Regions from separate parts of the Homo sapiens genome. Here all the other regions are linked to region 1. The links come from fine-mapping of genetic effects on gene expression. A gene starts in region 1. Each other region holds a variant in brackets. All regions are shown on one strand. Distances are from middle to middle. Region 1 holds the start of RTN3 (reticulon 3). Region 2 overlaps RTN3 (reticulon 3). Region 3 overlaps ATL3 (atlastin GTPase 3).

Evidence for each region. PIP is the estimated chance that this variant, and not a neighbour inherited with it, causes the effect. A credible set is the group of variants that fine-mapping cannot tell apart.
Region 2: its variant is the best candidate, but not a certain one, in a credible set for the expression of RTN3 in whole blood (TOPMed, PIP 0.59).
Region 3: its variant is the best candidate, but not a certain one, in a credible set for the expression of RTN3 in whole blood (TOPMed, PIP 0.67).

The regions. Positions count from the first base shown.
Region 1 is chr11:63,676,996-63,685,178 of GRCh38, forward strand. It overlaps RTN3 (reticulon 3), which reads left to right and starts at 4,505. Exons shown (of 9, transcript NM_001265589.2): 1 at 4,505-4,783. The coding sequence starts at 4,642. RefSeq lists a silencer at 4,678-4,797.
Region 2 is chr11:63,722,416-63,730,598 of GRCh38, forward strand. The region is part of intron 3 of RTN3 (reticulon 3); the gene reads left to right. Among named protein-coding and RNA genes, the nearest start is that of ZFTA, 42 kb to the right of the region's middle. The variant G/A (reference allele first, on the strand shown) is at 4,032.
Region 3 is chr11:63,650,504-63,658,686 of GRCh38, forward strand. It overlaps ATL3 (atlastin GTPase 3), which reads right to left. Exons shown (of 13, transcript NM_015459.5): 4 at 1,968-2,072; 5 at 1,433-1,483. LNCROPM (lncRNA regulator of PLAAT3 mediated phospholipid metabolism) reads left to right here. Exons shown (of 4, transcript NR_199012.1): 3 at 57-244. Among named protein-coding and RNA genes, the nearest start is that of ATL3, 17 kb to the right of the region's middle. The variant T/C (reference allele first, on the strand shown) is at 3,268.

The sequences.
Region 1 (8,183 bases):
TGTGTTAGCCAGGATGGTCTCGATCTCCTGACCTCGTGATCCACCCACCTCGGCCTCCCAAAGTGCTGGGATTACAGGCGTGAGCCACCGCGCCTGGAGTTATTTTATTTTTCAAGATGAGGTCTCGCTATATTGTCCAGGCTGGTCTTGAACTCTTGGGCCCAAGCCATCCTCCTGCCTTGGCCTCTCAAAGTGTAGGGATTACAGAGGTGAGCCACCATGACAGCCAGGGAGCACTTTAAAAATTCCATCTTGGGCCGGGCGCGGTGGCTCACGCCTGTAATCCCAGGACTTTGGGAGGCTGAGGCAGGCAGATCACGAGGTCAGGAGTACAAGACCAGCCTAGCCAACATGGTGAAACCTCGTCTCTACTAAAAATATAAAAATTAGCCAGGCATGGTGGCATGGGCCTGTAGTCCCAGCTACTCGGGAAGCTGAGGCAGAAGAATCACTTGAACCCAGGAGGTGGAGGGTGCAGTCAGCTGAGATCATGCCACTGCACTCCAGCCTGGGTGACAGAGTGAGACTCCATCTCAAAAAAAAAAAAAATCCCATCTTGGACAAAAAAAAGGAAAAAAAAAATCCCAGCTGAGCCATTTCCCACCAAAAACTTCCACTCAATCCCCATTATTCTTAAGACAAAGCCTCAGTTCTTTGGTTCAATACTACTGCTTCTCCAAAAACTGGCCCCAACATATCTTCCTCATTTTAGATGTTATCCCTATATCTTCCCTCCTGTCCTAATTCAAGCCTTCAGCTCCAGCCAATTTGGTCTAACCAACACCCAAGACACCTTATACACGCTCACGTCTGAGCCTTTAGCCACCACATATGGCTGTACAGTCTGAGTGTTACACCAAGGCAGCTTGTGGAGACAAGGGGCAAGAGGGGATCAAATCTAGGTGAGGTTCTGCTAGCCAAATCAGCATGGAACTGTATCATGGGTGGGGCTGGGAGAAAGAGGTTCTTTTTTGTGATTCATCTGCCCAGAAGAGTACTTTTTTTGTATACATTCACAAAAGCAACCCCTGTATTTGCTTCATACCATCCTTTTCTGCTTTTAATGACTTCCTTACAATTCCAAACACCTATCTAACTTTGAGCATCTTCACAAAACCTCCTGGCTGGGCGCAGTGGCTCACGCCTGTAATCCCAGCACTTTGGGAGGCCGAGGCAGGCAGATCACGAGGTCAGGACATCGAGACCATCCTGGCTAACACAGTGAAACCCCGTCTCTACTAAAAATACAAAAAATTAGCCAGGCACGGTGGCACGCACCTGTAGTCCCAGCTACTCGGGAGGCTGAGGCAGGAGAATCACTTAAACCTGGGAGGCAGAGGTTGCAGTGAGCCGAGATCGCACCACTGCACTCCAGCCTGGGTGACAGAAAAAAAAAAAAAACCTCCCTAAGCCACTACAACTTCATGGTAATTCCTTCCCCTCGTTGTTTTTGTTTTTGTTTTTGTTTTTGTTTGAGGTGGAGTCTCACTGTGTTGCCCAGGCTGGAGTGCAGTGGCATGATCTTGGCTCATTGCAACCTCTGCCTCCCAGGCTCAGGTGATTCTCGTGCCTCAGCCTCCCGAGTAGCTGGGATTACAGGTACACACCACTATGCCTGGGTAATTTTGTATTTTCAGTAGAGATGGGGTTTCTCCATGTTGGCCAGACTAGTCTCAAACTTTTGACCTCAGGTGATCCGCCTACCTTGCCCTCCCAAAGTGCTGGGATTACAGGCGTGAGCCACTGCGCCTGGCCCCTCTCTTTTAAATTCATTTAATTTACTTGCCATCTAATCAAAGCACTATGGTTTTATGGTGTTTGGGGTTGTTTTTAGTTGCTATTTAATTTATATTATTTAACTTTATGTGAGTATGTTTTTTGTCCTAACTAGCTTGTAAGCTCATTGAAGACAAGACTAACATATTTTGGAGGTCTCTTCAAAGTTCCCAGAATTGTGTTATACACACAGCACATGATCAATACACATTCATAGAACTGGCCGGGCACAGTGGCTCACGCCTATAATCCCAGGTGTGGGAAACTGAGGCAGGAGGATCACCCGAGGTCAGGAGTTCAAGACCACCCTGGCCAACATGGTGAAACCCCGCCTCTACTAAAAATACAAAAATTAGCCGGACATGGAGGCATGTGCCTGTAATCCCAGCTACTCAGGAGGCTGAACCAGAACTGCTTGAACCCGGGAGGCGGAGGTTGCAGTGAGCCAAGATGGCACTACTGCACTCCAGCCTGGGCAATAGAGCAAGACTCCATCTCAAAAAAAAAAATGTCTGAAGGGTCTGAAAAGACCAGTAAGACCACGTGCATATCTTGCTTTTTAACTTCTCTGCTGCTACATATTAGGAAAATGGACTTCCTTCCAGCTGGAGTCTCCAGATTGTAGCAAGTGCTGTCAGAGTTAGCTACCAGCATCATTTATTTCCTTATCTAGCACTTAATAATGTAGATTTTTGTTTGTTTGTTTTGTTTTAAGGAGCAGAGCGTTTAATAGACAAGAAAGAAGGAAGGAAGAAGAAAACAGCTCCCCTAATAATGCGATTTTTAAAAAAACATATGCACGTATCAGAATGGGTAGATAACTGGCTTGGTTATCCGATCTGCTATTATTTCCCTTTGCCATCCAAGAGACAGTTTGCTGCATTATCAGCTGATGCAGTAAGTGCCAGGGTAAGGTATTAGCCACAAAGTTATTTTGGGAAATATTTTTCTATGCCTTTTTCAGAGCATTGCAAAGGCCAGGAGTCATCCTCCCACCCCCTGGGGCTTTACCTGACCTTAAAAACTCAAGGGCAGATGTAGTACACAGCTTGTTCTAGAAGATTTCCACTGGTCAGATCGCCTTTCCCCTCAGTGGCAGCTTGGCTGACCACCTCCCGCTTCATGAGGCTGCATCTTTACAGGATCTGCTGATCCTGCAATTGTACTTTGGGTCATCGATTGCTGCTTTAGCAGTAACAGTCGACAGCCTTGATTTTTATTATTTCCAGGATACAGTCCTCCTTTTTTTTTTTTTATTTGACGGAGATTTGCTCTTTCACCCAAGCTGGAGTGCAATGGTGAGATCTCTGCTCACTGCAACCTCTGCCTCCCGAGTTCAAGCAATTCTCCTGCCTCAGCCTCCCGAGTAGTTGGGATTACAGGCGCCCGCCACTACCCCCAGCTAATTTTTGTATTTTTAGTAGAGACAGGGTTTCACCACATTGGCCAGGCTGTTCTTGAACTCCTGACATCAGATGATCCACCTGCCTCGGCCTCCCAAAGTGCTGGGATTACAGGTGTGAGCCACCGCGCCCAGCCAACAGTCCTCCTTTAACAAAGACTATGCACCTTTCCAATATTTTGACCAGATGTAGGGAGAAGGCTTCGAATTTGGCAATCCAGCCCAGGAAAAGCAAAAAATGAACAAAATCCAATATAGGCTAGAAATCTGGTTTTAAATACATGTTCTGCTAAGGACCTCTTTTAGTCTATGAATAAAATTCAATTATGTGTATTTTGTGCCTTATTCTGATTTTTTTTACTTTTTTTTTTTTTTTTAAGGCAGGAAGGTTCTCGCTGTGTGGCCCAGGCTGGACTCCAACTCCTGGGCTCAAGTGATCCTCCCTTCTCTGCCGTAGCAGAGACTACGGGCCTCTGCCACTGACTGCGGCCTTATTCTGAATTTTTAATATCTAATTTTATCATCCCCCATAATCACAGCCAACATTTTCTTATCTCCTGGCTCTTCTTCATCAGCTCAGCATTTTTTTTCCCTCTCTAAAATATGTCGTCTCTATCTGACAGTCTATTCGGAGGAAAAGAGAACCTTAAGACCCAAGGTGGACCCTTCTCTGGCAACAGTAACGAGATAAGAATACGAAGCAGGTTCTGCGACTGCATTGCAATGTGATTGGAATGAGTAATCGTTTTTCATTCTGTATAGCATCTTTCTCCACCTACCAAATGGGGGGCCGTGCCATCTCTGCCTCTCGGTGAGGAGATATTACGACACAGCCAGTGAGATTCACAAAGCACCTTGCAGAGTGGGCCTACTCTACACTCTGGTTTTCAGTTTTTATTGGAGTCACAGGTGGGAATGCATCAAACAAAAGATATAGGCTCTGGAATGTACGGGAAAGAGAGTTTCCATAATGGAAGCCCAAAGACATTTCTACCGTTAAAATACATAATCTGCCGACCCTAAAACATTCACATAAAGAGGCAGGAGGGAATACTATCCCGCAGCTCCACGATTAGCCGCAGTCGTGGGCGGGGATTGGGGCTTGGATACGCCTTTTGCGTCTGGTCCCCAAGGGACGCTCCCCAACCCTCGGCGCGCGAGGCGCCGCGTGAGGCCGGCTTTGCCCCTCCTTCCCTGCAAGAGCGCAGAGGAGCGGTTCTTGCGCCTGCGCCCTGCGCCGCTGCGCGCTTTGGCACCCGCTTGGGGCCCTTTGTGCGCATGCGCGCTCGCGCTCCCGCCCTCTAGCTGCGCTCGGCTGAGTCAGTCAGTCTGTCGGAGTCTGTCCTCGGAGCAGGCGGAGTAAAGGGACTTGAGCGAGCCAGTTGCCGGATTATTCTATTTCCCCTCCCTCTCTCCCGCCCCGTATCTCTTTTCACCCTTCTCCCACCCTCGCTCGCGTAGCCATGGCGGAGCCGTCGGCGGCCACTCAGTCCCATTCCATCTCCTCGTCGTCCTTCGGAGCCGAGCCGTCCGCGCCCGGCGGCGGCGGGAGCCCAGGAGCCTGCCCCGCCCTGGGGACGAAGAGCTGCAGCTCCTCCTGTGCGGGTAAGGCGCGCGGGGAGCCCCCGCCCTGGGAAAGAGGGCGAGCGGGAGCCTGGGGGCTGGGGGGATTAGGAGGCGAGGCGGGAGGAGGACGAATTACCCTCGACTACTGACGGCTTCAGCCCCCCGGGGACGAGCGTTTGGAAAATGGGCAAAGGGGAAGGGGAACGTAAGGTTGTGCAGGCGGTGAGGAAATAGCGGGGTGTGAGGAAAACAGGTTGGGGGCGGGGAGATAGTCCAGTGGGCGTTAACGCCAAGACTGGGCAGGTGGGGAAAAATACCAGCTCGTGGGATAAAATGGAGAGTTGCTCGATGCATATGGTGAACCTGGGTGATTTAGTGAGGATTAGAGAGATTGAAAGGATACGGGCAGGTGGGTGGTGGGAGAAACAATTTGTTACTATTTTTGAGGGGATGGTGGTGAAAGGGTTGCATTGCAGGTTTGCAGACAGGTGTTGACATAATCAAGCATTCATGATAGTCCTCCAAAATATTTTTGGCTGCCCATGGGAAGGATGAGGAAGTTTAATGGAAGCATTGTAGCCTGTTTTTTTTGTTTGTTTGTTTTGTTTTTACTGTTTTCGGCTAGACTCCATGAATGCCGGATTTTTCTGAGGCTCCGAGGTAGAAGGAGGCGTGATGAGAATAGCTCAGGGAAGATTTGGGAGGGAGCTGCTAATGGTCCAAGATGGATCCGTGGCTGCATCTGCAACAGCCTGCTCTTCCCTGGCGCTGCGTGGGGGTGGGGACACGCAATCAGTCGCTTATATTCTAGAAAATAGAGTCATGCTAAGCTATCAACATGTTTTGATTTCATGTTTTCTGTGGGCTACTATTGATCGAAGTATAACAAAGGGGGGTGTTTATTGCAGAAAGGGGGAGGGGGAGAACATTCAGACAAAGCAAGGGCTGGTTGAGTCCCCTTCTCCCATCTCTGTGAAAGACTAAGAACGAAGCTGCAGACCTCCTTTAGTTTGCATTGTATACGCGTCTGCCTGCTGGTAAGAGCTGCCTGGCAAGCTCCCCTTATGCAGAAATCTGCAGTGCAGATGCCTTCTTAAGGGGGGAAAAAAAAACCACCATGGGCAGGTGGTAGTTCTCAAAGGAACGGAGTCTTTGAAGGGAAAAAAAATGCCTTTTGTCAAAGGCAGGGCCGTAAATTCGGGAGAGTAGAGATAATTTTGCTCTCTATTTAGTTATGTTAAAGGATTTTGATCATTTTTTTTTAATGCTTCGTTGTCTCCTTTGGCAGAATCTTGGGTTCTAAAGAAAAAATTTCTGATCTTAACCTTAAATGTATTATTCTCTACGTGTTTTTCTAGCAGTGAATTTTCACCTGTCTGAGAGCTTTGGAGCCCTGTTGGATTTTTTCAGTGTGGTTATGGCCATTTCAGTAGAAACAGGCAGTATCAGGAAGCTTTTGCAGATAAAAGAATGAGGCAGCAAATTTAGAACCCTGTCTCCTTTAAACCACCAGCCTTTTCTCCAAATTTTTGTGTTCTGGGCTAAGGTCCAGATGAACAGCGACTTCCTTATAACTTAGCAACTTGATCTTTTTGCTTTAATCACTTGTCATTGCTTACTGTTTGGTAGGCCCTTTTGTACTTACCTTTTGGGTTTTCTTGATTTTTCATTTTTGATTCAGACCTAAGTTTTAGAAATTTGGCTCTGTAAGCTCAAGATAAGACAGATGTTAAGTGTTGAAGAGTCATTTTAGTTAGCAGATTTGAAAATTTAGTCCTAGTTTGTTTATAACTAAATGGTGAAATCATTTGAGATTCAACTTTTTCATTCTTTTAATGCACTTATGGAAGAACTGGCCTAGTAGGCCAATGAAATAAGAGTATTTTGTTCACAGACACACAGGCATACCACAACCTAATTGGCACCTAAATTGGCAATACGAATTTAATGACATAACATATTTCTGTTTGGCTTACCTTTTTTTATGTCATCTACCCTTGTCACAATTTTTATCTATTTATTGTGTATTTTTTGCACTTCTCTTTATAATAGTGGAAAAGGTGCTGAAATTATGTGTTTTGTCGAAAGTAGTAGAATTATATCGTGAAGTGCTGTTCCAAGTACATGAGTTTGCATTACATTTTCCGAATAATATTAAATGCCGCGGTTTCCACTCGTTATTTCTTTCTCTTTTCTTTTCTTTCTTTTTTTTTTTTTTTTTTTTTTTTTTTTTAGACAAGGTCTTGCTCTGTCACAGACTGGAGTGCAGTGGAGCCATCTTGGCTCACTGCAACCTCCATCTCCGGGGTTCAAATGATTCTCATGCTTCAGCCACCCGAGTAGCTGGAATTACAGGCGTGTGCCACCACGCGTGGTTAATTTTCTTTTGGTTTTTTTTTTTTTTTTTTTTTTTTTGGTTTTTTTTTTGAGACGGAGTCTCGCTTTGTCGCCCAGGCTGGAGTGCAGTGGTGCGATCTCAGCTCACTGCAACCTCCATCTCCCAGGTTCATGCCATTCTCCTGCCTCAGCTTCCCAGTAGCTGGGACTACAGGTGCCCACCACCATGCCCGGCTAATTTTTTGTATTTTTAGTAGAAACAGGGTTTCACAGTGTTAGCCAGGATGGTCTTGATCTCCTGACCTCGTGATCCGCCCACCTCGGCCTCCCAAAATGCTGGGAATACAGGCATGAGCCACCACACACGGCCCACACCTGGTTAATTTTTATATCTTTGGTAGAGATGGGGTTTTGCCATGTTGGCCAGGCTGGTCTCAAACTCCTGGCCTCATGTGATCTGCCCTCCTCGGCCTCCCAAAGTGCTGGGATTACAGATGGGAGCCACTGTGACCAGCTTTACCCATTATTTCTTAGTAAAATTTTATTACAGAATTTGTATTTCTTAGATGTGCTGTAGACACGTATCACTATTAGCACTTAAAACAGTGATATATAGTAGTACTTGGTAAGTATTTGTTGAATAAATTATCAAATTTACGAGCTAGAAAGGCACACTTGAGAAATAAACTAAAGAGAAACTCTTTTTGGAGTCTCGCTCTGTAGCCCAGGCTGGAGTGCAGTGGTGTGATCTTGGCTCACTGCAACCTCTGTCTCCTGGGCTCAAACCATTCTCCCACCTTAGCCTCCTGAGTAGGTGGGATTACAGACATGCACCACCACGCCCAGATAATTTTTGTACTTTTACTAGATATGGGGTTTTGCCATGTTGGCCAGGCTGGTCTTGAACTCCTGACCTCAAGTGATCCGCCCACCTCGGCCTCCCAAGGTGTTGGGATTACAGGCATGAGCCACTGAGCCCAGCCAAGAGACTCTTATCTTAAATGCTTATCCATTGCAAATGTGCATTCATATTGTCTAAAAAGCACTAATACAGTTTTGGTGGGCCCAATGCAAGATCCTCATTTGTTGGGTCACTACTTGA
Region 2 (8,183 bases), 45 kb after region 1:
GTACTTAACCTTACAATGGTATTGTGAGGATTAAATATGAAAATGCAGGTAATACAGTGCCTAGCACATAGTAAATATGCAGTCAGATTTAGCACCAAATACAGGGCCTGCCACATAAGTAGTACTGGATAATTATTTGTTGAATGAATGATATGAATTATTTCACTAACAATTATCAGTGAAAGACATTGAGGCTTTTTGATAAACCAAAAATTTTGAATTACCAATTAAGGATAGCTCTTATACTCTAGCATTTGAAGCTCACTGAATTTGGATTAAAGAGTACTAGGTTCTAATTCTTGCTGTGCTGTGTCTAGAAGTATGACTTTGAACAAGTAACTTACATAACCTTTCGGGGGCCTCAGTTTTAATATCTGTAAAGTGAGGATGTAAAGTGAAGTAGATGGTCTTCAATTATCATTTAAATAATATGATTCTCTGGCTCTGGTACATTCTAGATTTCTTCCTCAGTTGTCATAATTCTTACAGGTAGTAACTTTTGGGCAATAAGGCATATAGGAATTATGCTACAAGAACTCCAGTGTCTAATTCTGGCAAATTCCTGTTTTAGCATGACCTTAGATGACTAGTCTAATTGGTTCAGCATCTTCCTTTGTTAATGTGATGATCATTATTTTGCCCTGCTTTGTATGTTGCAGTAAATAAAGTGCTGTGTAAATGCTAATTATTAGTGATTATCAACTGAATTATTTAATCTAGCGTGAGAGATGTAAAGGGCTATGGAAGTTCAGGATATTTGTCACTGACCAAAGTCTATGATTAGTGTATGTTTTTAGATTGTAATTAAAGAAGACCGGTATAGTTAGACCAAGAAGTTTAAAGGCCTTTCTTGCAGCTTTCAAAAGTGAAAACCTTTTAAAATTGTCTTATTTATGAATAAATCTTTAAAAATATAATCCATTTCATTGCAGTGAAATAAATAAATAAAAACATAAACCATTTCAGTAAAATGCATCAGTGTCTAGTTTTATTTATTTATCTTTTTTTTTTTTTTTTTAATTTTTTGAGACAGAGTCTCACTCTGTTGCCCAGGCTGGAGTGCAGTGGCGCGATCTCGGCTCACTGCAACCTCCACCTCCAGGGTTCAAGCGACTCTCCTGCCTCAGCCTTCCGAGTAGCTGGGATTACAGGCGTGTGCCACCACGCCCAGCTAATTTTTTGTATTTTTACTAGAGATGGGGTTTCACCATGTTGGCCAGGCTGGTCTCTCAAACTCCTGGCTTCAAGTGATCCGCCTGCGTTGGCCTCTCAAAGTGCTGGGATTTACAGGCCTGAGCCACCACACACAGCCGATTGTCTAGTTTTAAATACGTGTATCTGCATATTCTTCCTTTCTAAGGTAAAAACAGTGCTTTAATTATATTCTGCCTTAAGTTGTTTGGGAAAATAGGCAAAAGAAACAATGAAAGAATTAGTGGTTTTCTGTTTGTTTTTGCTATTTTATGGTATATTATGTAACAGCTTGTAATGAAGCCTTTATCATATTATAGTTGGTTGCTGAGTAATTAAGTTATGATAGACTCTCATAGTTTGGGGAAGAAAATCAGATCCCTGCCTCTCACATACCTAGTGTAGTGAAGATAGTTTTTTGTGTTTTAGTATCCAGATTGGCAGGATGCAAGGAAATAAGCATATAGTTTGGTGAAGTACATGTAAATTGTTACAGCCTTTCTGGAAGGCAGTTGGCAATATGTAACAGACCTAGAACTGCCCTAGCAATCTTGTTTTTAGGAATTCTTTTTTTTTTTTTTTTTTTTTTTTTTTGAGACAGAGTCTCGCTCTGTCGCCCAGGCTGGAGTGCAGTGGCGCAATCTCGGCTCACTGCAAGCTCTGCCTCCCGGGTTCACGCCATTCTCCTGCCTCAGCCTCCCGAGTAGCTGGGATTACGGGCGCCTGCTACCACGCCCGGCTAATTTTTTGTATTTTTTAGTACAGACGGGGTTTCACCATGTTAGCCAGGATGGCCTCAATCTCCTGACCTGGTGATCTGCCCACCTCGGCCTCCCAAAGTGCTGGGATTACAGGCGTGAGCCACCCGTGCCCGGCCCTTTTTTTTTTTTTTTTTTTTTTTTAAAGACAGAGTCTCACCGTGTTGCCCAGGCTGGAGTGCAATGGCACGATCTCGGGTCACTGCAACCTCCACCTCCCGGGTTCAAGCGATTCTCCTGCCTCAGCCTCCCAAGTAGCTGGGATTACAGGTGCCTGCCACCACGCCCGGCTAATTTTTTGTATTATTAGTAAAGACGGAGTTTCACTATATTGGCCAGGCTGGTCTCGAACTCCTGACCTCGTGATCCGCCCGCCTTGGCTTCCCAAAATACTGAGATTACAGGCGTGAGCCACGGAACCCAGCTGGAATTTATCCTTTTTTAAAAATGTGCAAAAATAACTACACAGATGTTCATTATAGCACAGTTTATGATAGTGGCAGATATCTCGGTGTCTTAACAATTAGAGATTGGTTGAGTATATTATGGTATAACTGTGCAATCGAATATTACACAGTCATTGAAGTTGTTAAAGTTTTGTTTTTTTTTTTTTTAAGAAATGGAAAAATATAGAAAAGTACAAAGGCAGCCTACACCCATATCTTCTCTATATGTAGAATTAACTTATGTTAATTGTTAGCATTGGTAGTCATATTTGCTTCCAAACTAAAGGACTCTTTGATTACCACCTGGCCACGCCCTCCATCTCCCCTTCCCCAGACGTAACACCGTCATGGACCTGGTACATCCTTCCAGTTTATTTTAAATAAATGTGTTTGTATTGTTTTATGCTTTTTAACCATTCATTCATGTTATCATGTTTGTTGTATAACGTTTTCCATTCAACATTAGGTTTTTAAACTTCTTTCATGTTGGAATTTATATAATTTATTCATTTTAACAGCTATGTAGTAATCCATTATATGAATATATTATTTTCTTTTGGTAAGGATTTAGATTCTTTCCTATTTTTTGCTATTATAGACAGCGCTGAAGTTAACATTCTTCTTTTTTTTTTTCCTTTTTCTTTTTCTTTTTTGAGATGGAGGAGTTTCACTCTGTCGCCCAGGCTGGAGTGCAGTGGTGCAATCTCCGCTCACTGCAAGCTCCGCCTCCCGGGTTCATGCCATTCTCCCGCCTCAGCCTCCTGAGTAGCTGGGACTACAGGCGCCTGCTACCACGCCCAGCTAATTTTATTTTTGTATTTTTAGTAGAGTCGGGGTTTCACTGTGTTAGCCAGGATGGTCTCAATCTCCTGGCCTCGTGATCCGCCCGCCTCGGCCTCCCAAAGTGCTGGAATTACAGGCATGAGCCACCGCGCCCGGCCTTAAGTTAACGTTGTTATACTTGTCTGTTTTTACACATATGTGACTATTTCCCCAGCGTTAGGGTGCTACTGCTTATCAGTTTCACTTCTAGCTCTGTGCCTTATTTTTCTAGTTACTGTCAAAGTTAGTGTCTTCTGTTATGTAAAAATGTTCGTAATTTATTAGTAAAAACTACATTGTTCAGCACCCAGCAGATGGTGGGTGCTAAAGTGGAATGAAAAGAGTTACCAAACAAGGAATACAAAATAATTCCTATCTTGGTATCATTTAAAGTGAATCTATGCTAGAAAGATTCCATAAAGAAAAAAAATGAATCTATATACCTACATATACAGGGAATCTGAAGTAATTTTTAAAAGCAATGTCAGAATGGTTTTCTTTTCTTATGGCCAAGTAGGCTTTTACTGGACCTGACCTTCCTGCATATAACTGGACAAAATTTTTAAAAAACAAAGACCCGAAGGCACTGGAGGATGAACGGGAGCAGTCAGATTCTGAAAGAGAGTTGACACATGTAAGAAGAGACAGCATGAAATTAGTTTTTTATTTTTACTGCTTTTAGCTAGAGGACAGGCTGAAGTGGGCACCTGACAGGCTGGCTTAAACCTTCATAGAAAACCTAAGCAGTGGACAGCATTTGGGTCAGCCACAACCACTGAGTCAGTGGAATGTAAGGGGAGGAGGAATCTTGGAA[G/A]GGAGAGATCCAGAGAGTGACAGCCTAAAATTCTGTAGATAAAATAAACTGTGTTTAAGCCTCTGTTTAATTGTAAACCACACTTAACACAAAAGATTATAAGCAGCACAACTAGAGATGAAAGAAGTGAACTGGGCCGGGTGCAATGGCCCACGCCTGTAATCCCAGCACTTTGGGAGGCCAAGGCGGGTGGATCACGAGATCAGGAGTTCAAGACCAGCCTGGTCAAGCTGGTGAAACCCCATCTCTACTAAAAATACAAAAATTAGCCGGGCACATTGGCAGGCGCCTGTAATCCCACCTACTCAGGTGGCTGAGGCAGGAGAATCGCTTGAACCCCTGGGGGTGGAGGTTGCAGTGAGCCAAGATCATGCCATTGCACTACAGCCTGGGTGACAGAGTAAGACTCCGTCTGAAAAAAAAAAAAAAAAAGAAGAAGTGAGCCGAGTTTGTAGTTTGAAGGCCAGGCACAGTGGCTCATGCCTGTAATCCCAGTACTTCAGGAGGCTGAAGCAGGTGGATCACTTGAGCCCAAGAGTTCAAGGCCAGCCTGGGCAGCATGGTGAAACCCCATCTCCACTAAAAAATACAAAATTAAGCCAGGCATGGTGGCCTGTGCCTGTAGTCCCTGAGCCCAGGGAGGTCAGGGGTGCAGATCGCACCACTGCACTCCAGCCTGGGTGACAGAGTAAGACTCTATCTTGAAAAAAAAAGTTTGCAGTTTGAATCTAACCAAATTTATTACATGTTAAAACAAAAGTAATGATACTCTCCAGAGGAATAGAACACAGTCTGGAATTTGTACAGCATAATATTCACAATGTCCAGGATATAATCCAAAACTACATGTTTTAAGAACCAAGAAATTATAACTCAGTCTGAAGAAAAAGAGACAATCGATAGAAACTAACTGCATGTGTTGGAATTAGGAGTCAGGATTTTAAGGGTTTTCATTTTAATCACTCAAAGAAGTAAAGGGAAATATTCTTGTATTGAATAAAAAAGAAAATCTCAACCTAGAAATCGAAACAAAAAAGAGTCAGGTGGGGATTCTAGAACTGTAAAATATAACCACTGAAATTAAAATTCAGCAGGTGACCTTAACAGCAAAATGGAGATGACAGGGGAAGAAGCTGGTGAACTTGATAGCATACTAAAGAACAGAAAGAACACATATTTTTTAAAAGTGTCACCAGAGCTTCAGAACCCTGTGGGACAATATCAAAAGACCTAACTTTGGCCAGGCACAGTGGCTCACGTCTGTAATCCCACCACTTCAGCACTTAGGGAGGCCGAGGCAGGAGGATCACTTGAGCCCAGGAGTGCGAGACCTGCAAAACCTATTTTTTATAATTGGAGTCCTAGCAGGAGAGGAAAGTGAGAGAGAGACTGGAGAAGGACATATTTAAAGATAAAATGGCTGAAATTTTCTTAAATTTTATGAAAGGCACATTTACTGATGAAAGACGCTCATCAAACACCACCTACTAGGATAATTACAAAGAAAACCATACCTTGGTGTATGTGTCGGGGTCCCCAAGATAACCATCAGGGCCAGTGATTTGCTAGAAGGACCCATAGGACTCATAAACTGTAAACTAGCAGTTAATGGTTTATTACAGCAAAAGGACATAGGTTAGAATTGGCCAGAGGAAAAGACACACGGGATAAAATCTAGGAGAGATCAGATGCAAGCTTCCAGGTATTGAATGGAGTCATACAGGGATGTACTTAATTCTTTTACAGTGATGCGTGATAACATGTGCAAAGGATTCCCAACCAAGGAAGCTCTTTCAATCTTTGGTGTCTAGCACGGCATGCAGTGCCCATATGACTGAACTCAGCTACTCAGACCCCAGACCCCCAGAGCAAAAACATGTACTGGCAATAAATCATATTGTTAGGATAAATTTATCTGATACAGCATGGCCTAAGACCTCAGGCATGCAAAAATACTTATGAAGCAGAATATTCAAAGGGCTCAGAGGCCATCTCCAAGGAGCCAGCAAAGGGCTAGTCCTGAAGACAGACCTTTCTTTGGCATGTGCAGGGCTTGGCATTCTAGGCCTGCTGAGTTTTCACCCTTTCCTATACAGTGTATCGTAGTCAAGTTGCTGAAAACCAAAAATAAGGAGAAAATCTTGAAAGTAGCTAGAGAAGAGGCTGGGCGCGGTGGCTCACGCCTGTAATCCCCACACGTTGGAAGGCCGAGACAGGTGGGTCACAAGGTCAGGAGTTCGAGACCAGCCTGACCAACATGGTAAAACCCCATCTCTACTAAAAATACAAAAATTAGCCGGGGTGGCAGTGCACACCTGTAATCCCAGCTACCCAGGAGGCTGAGGCAAGAGAATCACTTGAACCCAGGAGGCGGAGGTTGCAGTGAGCCGGGATTGCGCCACTGCACTCCAGCCTGGGCGACAGAGCGAGACTCCGTCTCAAAAAAAAAAAAAAAAGAAAAAAGAAAAGAAAGTAGCTAGAGAAGAATGACACAGGGAAATGACAATTATAATTAGAGCTTACTTCTTACTAGAAACCACAGATGTTTAAAAGGCAGTAGAGTAACATCTTATAAAGTGCCCAACAGGGAAAAAAAACCTGTCAACCCAGGTTTCTGTATTCAGGAAAAAAACAACAAAAAAAACAAAAAAACTGCAAGATTAAAAGACATTTTTAGATAAAAGAAAACTAAAAGAATTCTACCAGAAGACCTGCACTACAAGAAATGCTAAAGGAAGTTTTTCAGATTAAAGGAAAGTGATACCAAATAAAAACTCAGACCTTTAGGAAGGAATGAAGAGAATTGGAAGTGGTAAACACCTGGGTGAATATGAAAGGCTTATTTTTTTCCTCTTAATTTCTTAAAATATATAGGATTGCTTAAAGCAAAAATTGTAATAACGTGTATAGAGGTTATGATGTTTATTTCTTAGGACAATTATAACAGAAAAAAACGAGTATATGGACTGTACTATAGCAAAGGTTTCTGCTTTTTTTTTTTTTTTTTTTTTTTGTTTGTTTGAGACAGGATCTGGCTCTGTGGCTCTGTATCCCAGTCTGGAGTGCAGTGGTGCAATCATGACTCACTGCAACCTAGACCTCCTGGGCTCAAGCAATCCTCGTGCCTCAGCCTCCCATGTACCTGGGACCACAGGTGCATGCCACCACACCTAGCTAATTTTTTTATTTTTTTAGTAGAGACAGAGTCTCATTATGTTGCCAACACTGGCATTGATCTCCTGGGCTCAAGTAATCCTCCCACCTTGGTCTCCCAAAGTGCTGGGATTATAGGCATGAGCCACTATGCCCAGCCTGTTTCTACATTTTTAATGTAATGGTACTATAAATATATATATATTTGGAGACAGGGTCTCGCTCTGTCACCCAGGCTGTAGTGCAGTGAGTGGCATGAACACAGCTCACTGTACCTCAACCTCCCAGGCTCAAGCAATCCTCCCACTTCACCTTTTTGGGACTATAGGTATATGCCACGATGCCCAACTAGTTTTTAAATTAATTTTATTTTTATTTATTTTTTGAGACAGAGTCTCACTCTGTCACCCAGGCTGGAGTGCAGTGGCGTGATCTCAGCTCACTGCAACCTCTGCCTTCCGGGTTCAAGGGATTCTCCTCCCTCAGCCTCCCAAGTAGCTGGGATTACAGGCACTCACCACCACGCCTGGCTTATTTTTGTATTTTTAGTAGAGATGAGGTTTCACCATGTTTGTCAGGCTGATCTCAAACTCCTGACCTCTAGTGATCCACCCTCCTCGGCCTCCCAAAGTGCTGGGATCATAGGCGTGAGCCACCGTGCTCGGCCAAAAGATGTTATTTAAATATAAAGACACAGGTTGAAAGTAAATGGATGGAAAAGATATCCCAAAAAATTTATAAATGTATGCCATGCAAACAGTAAGCATAAGAAGATGAAAGCTTTTATCAGAAATAAATAAGGGACATCTTATCATGATAAAAGATACCAGGAAGTCTTGACAGTTATAAGTGTGTATGTGCCTAATAATGGCTTCAAAATACACAAAGCAAAAATTGACAGAATTGGCTGGGCAATGGCCCATGCCTGTAACCCCAACATTTTGGGAGGCCAAGGTGAGAAGATCACTTGAGACTAGTTTGAGACCAGCCTGGGCAACA
Region 3 (8,183 bases), 26 kb before region 1:
GATTTCCAGGCACACAAACATATTACTTTCTCCTCTGTAATATTTATATTTTACAGTTGCTGAGTCTACCAACAGCCTTGTCATGTGAGACAAGGTGAATTACATAACTGCATCATAATCTACTTACTACTTCTTATGGGTTGAATTGTGTCCTGAAGAAAAATATGCTAAAGTCCTCGCACCTGGTACCTGTGAATGTGACCTTACATATATCTATAGCACTTGGCCCTCTACCTCACACAAGGTAAGCATTCGAAAAATGGTTGAAAGGAAGGAGCTTAGAAAGGAATAAATTTCAGGTGAAATGGTGACCAACTCAAGTTGTGATCGAAGTTTTACAGAGCAACAGCTCTCAACCACTAAGCCATGGCACTGGTACAGAACTACCAATTATGAAGTACAGACAATTGCCATAAGCAACATTAAGGATCGAGGTTTAGGAGGAATTTTCCTTGTTTTTTAAAATAAACATAAAATAGAACTAATTCAAGGTAATCCCTATAATAATGACACCCTTACTCACTCACATTCTGATGCTTTCTTGAATGTCAGTGGGAGAAGTAGCATTAGAGTAACATACCAGAATTGCATCCAACCCTGGAATACTCACAAAAGAGCATTTTGTGGGAAAAACAGATAAGACCTGCTGCTATAAAAAAAGAGAAGAAAAAGGCCGGGCGCGGTGGCTCATGCCTGTAATCCCAGCACTTTGGGAGGCCGAGGCAGGCGGATCACGAGGTCAACAATTTGAGACCAGCCGGACCGACATGGTGAAACCCCGTCTCTATTAAAAATACAAAAAGTAGCCGGGCATGGTGGCGCACACCTGTAATCCCAGCTTGCAGTGAGCCAAGATTGCATCATTGCACTCCAGCCTGGGGACAAGAGCAAGACTTCGTCTTAAAAAAAAAAAAAAAGTCTATTCTGAACATAGCAGCCAGAATGATCCCTTTACAACAGGTCAGATAACATCATTGCTGACGACCCTCCCATGGCTCCCACCTTCCCCAGAGGAAAAGACCCAGAATGAGTGGGACCTCACTGCCTCTCTGACTTCATCACTTAACCCCTTCCTGTCACACTCTCCAATCCTACCCACCGGCCTCCCTGCCATTCCTTGATCTTGCCAAGCACACTCCCCTCAGGGTCTGTCTTCCAGCAGCTGCTCCTCTCCTGTAATAGTTTTCCGCCCAAATGTATCTGAAGGACTCACTTGCCCACTTTCTTTCATTCTCTGCTCAAATCATTAAGGCCTTCCCCGACCACTCCTGCTCCACCCCACCAATGGCTATACATAGTATAGAATTACTATGAACCAAAAACCTTCCTCTACATTTCAATCTTTTGCTAAAAACTACTCAGTTGTAAAATGTTCCTTAATCTTAAAACTTTTAAATAATATGATGTTAAAATTGTTATGAGAAATATATACCTGCAGCTGTTGAAGATCATCTTCTTGAATGTTCTGAGATAAATTATAAATCTAGAAAACAAAAATCCAGATTGATACTACTCTGGCTTACTTCAAACAAATCCCAAATAAGCCTAAAGGGCTGACAGAAGCTTTGAACAATTAAAGACTTGCATATAAGAACATGAGGCCTGTTCAAACAGCAATATGATCTGTCTTTTGGAAAACTATGCACATAAGATTGAAATCAAAAATTCCTCCTTTACAGTTTAAAACAGTTTTCCTAAGCTCTTATCAAATCTGTATTTTCTATATGATATAATAAATTTCCATTTTTTGGACTTTTCTTGGAACATATTATATATAATTATGACCAAAGAGGAAAAATTCTTTGGCTCCTTCTCAAACTTTTAAAAGTTTAACTGCATCTACAGTTTAAAAATAATATTTACATATCATCCTAGAAATTCTGTTAACAGAACAATAACCAAAACTGTATTTCCTCCCTTTATCTTATTTCCTTTGCGAGCTTTTTTCTGAGTCAAGTGGTTTTTACCTGAACAGAACTAGTCATAGTGCTTAGAGCAAAGATGGTAGCACAGTCTTTCACAGTTGACTGGCTGTCAAATGCCCCCTGGGTATCCATCAGAACAACTGCAACCTAAAAAAAAGGAAAATACAAACAAAAGAGATTAAACTAAGAAGGAGGAAACCGTAAAGGAGAAATTGAAAAGTACAGGTAATATATACTTAAGTACAGGTAATGTTTATGTGAGCCTTAAGCACCTGCTTGTAGGTTCTGTACAACTATTTAGGTGCTTTGCTTTGACTACAGCACTCTACTGAAGATTATCCAGCGTTATACAGAGCAATATGGAAGGCAAAAATTGCCCCACCAATTGAAACAGACAAAAGTTGAAAGCAATTAGCTTATCACCCAGCCAGGCATTTGGATGTTTCCTGTTGTTGAAAAAGAAACTAAAAAATATTCATCTTGGCCAGGTGCAGTGGCTCACACCTATAATACCAACAGTTTGGGAGGCCGTGGCAGCAGCAGCACTTGAGCCCAGTTCAATACCAGCCTGGGCAACATAGTGAGACCCAGTCTCTACATAAAATTTAAAAAATTAGGTCAGGCGCAATGGCTCATGCCTGTAATCCCAGCACTTCGGGAGGGAGGCAAAGTCAGGTGGATCACTTGAGGCCAGGAGTTCCAGACCAGCCTGGCCAACACGGTGAAATCGTGTCTCTACCAAAAATACAAAAATTAGGCCAGGCGCAGTGGCTCACACCTGTAATCCCAGTACTTTGGGAGGCCAAGGCAGGTGGATCACCTGAGGTCCAGAGTTCGAGACCAGCCCGGCTAACATGGCAAAATCCCGTCTCTACTAAAAATACAAAAAAAATGGGCGTGGTGGTGCACACCTGTAGTCCCACCTACTCCAGAGGTTGAGGCAGGAGAATCACTTGAACCCTGGAGGCAGAGGTTGCAGTGAGCCGAGACCACACTACTGTACTCCAGCCTGGGTGAGAGAGCGAGATTTTGTCCCAAAAAAAAAAAACCAAAACTCTTTGGTATATACCCAAAGGAGCTGAAAACTTATGTCTCAACAAAAACCAACACATGAGTATTTATAGGAGCTTTATTCTTAATTGTCAAAATTTGAAAGCAACCAAGATGTCCTTCAACAGGCAAATGGATGAACAAACTGGTGCCTTCATAATGTAGAATACTATTCAGCAATAAAAAGAAATGAACTATCAAGACACGAAAGAGTTGCAGAAATCTTAAAATTGCATTGCTAAGTGAAAGAGGCCAATCTGAAAAGGCTGCATATTGTATGATTCTAACTATA[T/C]GACATTCTGGTAAAGGCGAAACTATGGAGACAGTAAAAAGATCAGTGGAGGAGTTTGTGGGGAGGGAAGAGAGGAACAGATAGGTACATTACAGAGAATGTTTAGGGCAGTGTGACTATTCCGTATGATACAGTAATAGTGGGCATGTGTCACTATACAGTTGTCAAAATCCAATGTACAACACAATGAGTGAGCCCTAAAGTAAACTATGTATGGGTTTTAGCTAATGACAATATATTGGTTCAAATATTAATTGTAACAAATGTATCACACTATTACAAGATGTAAACAACAGAGCAAACTGAAGGAGAATGTGGGAACTGGGCAGGTTGCAATTAATTTTCCTGAAAACCTAAAACAAAATAAAGATACAATTTGTTTTTTTTTTTTTTTTGAGACGGAGTCTTGCGCTGTGGCCAGGCTGGAGTGCAGTGGCGCGATCTCGGCTCACTGCAAGCTCCGCCTCCCAGGTTCACGCCATTCTCCTGCCTCAGCCTCCCAAATAGCTGGGACTATAGACGCCCGCCACCACGCCCAGCTAATTTTTGTATTTTTAGTAGAGACGGGGTTTCACTGTGTTAGCCAGGATGGTCTCGATCTCCTGACCTCATGATCCGCCCGCCTCAGCCTCCCACAGTGCTGGGATTACGGAGTTTCACTCTGTTGCCCAGGTTGGAGTACAATGGCACGATCTTGGCTCACTGCAACCTCCACCTCCCAGGTCCAAGCGATTCTCCTGCCTCAGCCTCCCGAGTAGCTGGGATTACAGGCATGAGCCACCATGCCCGGCTAATTTTTGTATTTTTAGTAGAGACAGGGTTTCACCACGTTGGTCAGACTCGTCTTGAACTCCTGACCTCAGATGATCCACCCACCTCGGCCTCCCAAAGTGCTGGGATTACAGGCCTAAGCCACCATGTCTGGCCTATTTTTTTTTTTTTTTTGAGACAGAGTTTTGCTCGTCACCCAGGCTGGAGTGCAATGGCGCAACCTCGGCTCACCACAACCTCCACCTCCCAGGTTCAAGCGATTCTCCTGCCTCAGCCTCCTGAGTAGCTGGGATTACAGGTGCACACCACCATACCCGGCTAATTTTTGTATTTTTAGTTGAGCAAGACTGTCTAAAAAAAAAAAAAAAAGTTGTTTTCTGTTAATTTTAATATCTGTGTTAGTTCTGAGACAGTTTTGATTGATTTTTCTCCTCATTTGGGTTATATTTTTCTGCTTCTTTTATGTCTGCAAATTTTTGATAGGATGTAGACTTGTGGATTTTCCCTTGTTGGGTGCTGGTTATTTTTGCATTCCTATAAAATATCTAGCTTTATTCTGAGATGTAGTTAAGTAATTTGGAAACTCTGGTTTTTTCTGTTCTTGCTGTTTAGATTTGTTAAATGGAACCAGAGTGTTGTTATTCCTCATTACTGAGGCAAGACTGAGTACTCTTCCTAATCCCACTGCAATCTCCGCCGCCCAGGTTCCAGCAATTCTCCTGCCTCTGCCTCCCAAGTAGCTGAGATTACAGGTGGGCGCCACCACGCCCAGCTAATGTTTGTATTTTTAGTAGCAACAGGGCATCACCATGTTGGCCAGGCTGGTCTCGAACTCCTGACCTCAGGTGATCCGCCCACCCCAGCCTCCCAAAGTGCTGGGAATACAGGCGTGAGCCACCGCATCTGGCCTTTTTTTTTTTTTTTAGATGGAGTTTAGCTCTTGTTGCCCAGGCGGAAGTGCAATGGTGCGATCTCGGCTCACTGCAACCTCCACCTCCCGGGTTCCAGCGATTCTCCCACCTCAGCCTCCCAAGTAGCTGGGATTACAGGCATGACCCATCACACCCAGCTAATTTTTTGTATTTAGTAGAGATGGGTTTTCACCATGTTGGTCAGGCTAGTCTCAAACTCCTGACTTCAGGTGATCCACCCACCTCGGCCTCCCAAAGTGTGAGATTACAGACGTGCGCCACCGCGCCGGCCAAAGAATTTTAAATGAACATCTTGTGGAACAACTTCAAGCAGCAAGAGGCACATGTAATAGGAGTCTCCAAAGGGAGTAACAGACCAAAAAAACTTGAAGAAATAATAACCTTAAAATGTCCAAATTTGATAAACATTATAAATCTGCAGATTCAAGAAGCTCAACAAAACCCACATACAAATAACATGAACTACATCAGCCTGGCGCAGTGGCTCACGCCTATAATCCCAGCACTTTGGGAGGCCAAGGCGGGCAGATCACGAGGTCAGGAGATCGAGACCATCCTGGCTAACACAGTGAAACCCCGTCTCTACTAAAAATACAAAAACTTAGCCGGGCGTGGTGGTAGGCGCCTGTAGTCCCAGCTCCTTGGGAGGCTGAGGCAGGAGAATGGCGTGAACCCGGGAGGCGGAGCTTGCAGTGAGCCGAGATCACGCCACTGCACTCCAGCCTGGGCGACACAGTGAGACTCCGTCTCAAAAAAAAAAAAAGAACTACATCAAAACACATAATAATTTGCTCAAAAACAGTGATAAAATCTTAAAAGCAACCAGACATACCCTATAAATATATATACCTATGTACCCACGAAAATAAAATTTTTTTTAATTTAAAGAAAAAAGCAACCAGACAAAAAAGACAGATTAGGTACAAAAGAACAAAAATAAGAATAACAGTGTATTTCTTGTCAGAAACAATGTCAGCAGACTGGGCACAGTGGCTCATGCTTGTAATCCCAGCACTTTGGGAAACAGAGGCAGGTGAATAACCTGAGGTCAGGAGTGCAAGACCAGCCTGACCAATATGGCGAAACCCCGTCTCTACTAAAAATACAAAAATTAGCCAGGCGTGGTGGTGCGCGCCTGTAGTCCCAGCTACTCAGAAGGCTGAGACAGGAGAATTGCTTGAACCCGGGAGGCAGAGGTTGAAGTGAGCCGAGATCGCACCACTGCACTCCAGCCTGAGCAACAGAGAGACTCCCTCTCAAAAAAAAAAAAAAGAAACAATGTCAGCAAAAAGGCAAAGGGGCAACACCTTTGAAGTACTGAGAAAAATACGTTGGCCTAGAACTCTACACTAAGAGTAAATATTTTCCAAAACAAAGGCAAAATAAAGATTTTTCAGATGTATGAAAGCTAAAAGAATTCAGTACCAACACTCCAGCACTTCAAAATATCAAAGGTGGCCAGGTGTGGTGGCTCACCCCTGTAATCCCAGCACTTTGGGAGGCTGAGACAGGCGGATCACGAGGTCAGGAGTTCCAGACCAGCCTGGCCAACATTGTGAAACCCTGTCTCTACTAAAAATACAAAAATTATCCAGGCATGGTGGTGTGCACCTGTACTCCCAGCTAATGAGGAGGCTGAGGCAGGAGAATTGCTTGAACCTGGGAGGCGGAGACTGTAGTGACCAAGATGGTGCCACTGCACTCCAGCCTGGGCAACAGAGTGAGACTACATCTCAAAAAAAAAAAAAAAAAAAGGACAAACAGGTGTGAAGGCATGCTTATAGGATTGGGCTAAAAACAGAAGTAATGGATGAAAGTCTGTATAAGAAACACATGACTTACCCCTCCCGATCCTTACAAAGAAATCTGTGGAGAGGCTCTATGCCCATAGCTTACAAGGCATAGATGAGACTGGGGCTAAGAAGCCCTACTGATAGCTAGGGGATAGTGAATGCCCACCTTCTGAACAGTGAGATCCCCAATGCCATTTCCCTGCTCAACTCCCAGAACAACAGCCAGGTCTGTGCCACCCATACAGGAGTAAGGAAGTAAAGAACAGAAGTGGTAACACATAAGAGCATCAGCCTCTGGGAAGTGAAAACTGGGTAGAGAGGAGAATAACACACATGACAGCTGCTTTCTGTTAGAAGCCTTACAGTAGTACCTGACCTTTTAAACTATATTCATGCATTTTATTTAAGAATCTTAAAAACAATCAATATGTATTAATTTTAAATCATTCACTTTGATAAAAAGTTGTTTTCACATCTTCCTTCCTTTTATTGAAAAAAAATTTCAGAAAATAACAGTTCATAAAAGACACAAACAAATCAACAGGTATATACCAGTGGAAAACACAATATGAAACTAAAAATGCCATTGGCTTTTTTTTTTTTTTTTTGAGACGGAGTCTCGTACTGTCGCCCGAGCTGGAGGACAGTGGTGTGATCTCGGCTCACTGCAACCTCTGCCTCCCGGGTTCAAGCGTTTCTCCTGCCTCAGCCTCCCAAGTAGCTGGGATTACAGGCACCCACCACCACACCCAGCTAATTTTTTGTATTTTTAGTAGAGACAGGGTTTCACTATGTTGGCCAGGCTGGTCTCAAACTCCTGACCTTGTGATCTGCCCACCCTGGCCTCCCAAAGTGTTGGTATTACAGACGTGAGCCACAGCACCCGGCTGCCACTGGCTTCTTTAATTGGTTAAGAGCACAAAATGTAACAGGCAGAAGGTCTGTTTCAAACAAATTAAAAAGCTATGTGTTTTTTAAATTCTCCCCAAGTTGGATATACACACACCCACAAAAATAGTGTGTGAAGGAAAGCTGTCATACACAGTAAGTTGTATCCTGAATTATTCAAGGAAACACATGTTGAAATAGGAATTAACAGAGTCAGCAACAGATTAATATTTTTTAACTGAGTCTAAAAATGCTACATAGCCCTAAGGAATACTACATAAAGTACTGCTAGGTACAAACAAAAAAGTCTGTATAGCTTTTAGCAAAAATGTTTTTCCAGAAAAGAAAATTAAAATAATGCAATCAGCAGACCAAGGAGACTACAGCTAGACATCAGAGCTACAACTTCGCATACCTGTGTCAGAAAATCCTATTTATCCACAACAGACTAAAATTTCAGGACAAAACAGGGACTTTTTAACTTTTCTTACTTTACCCATTTTAAATTCTTTGATAAAAGGTTTTTAATTGG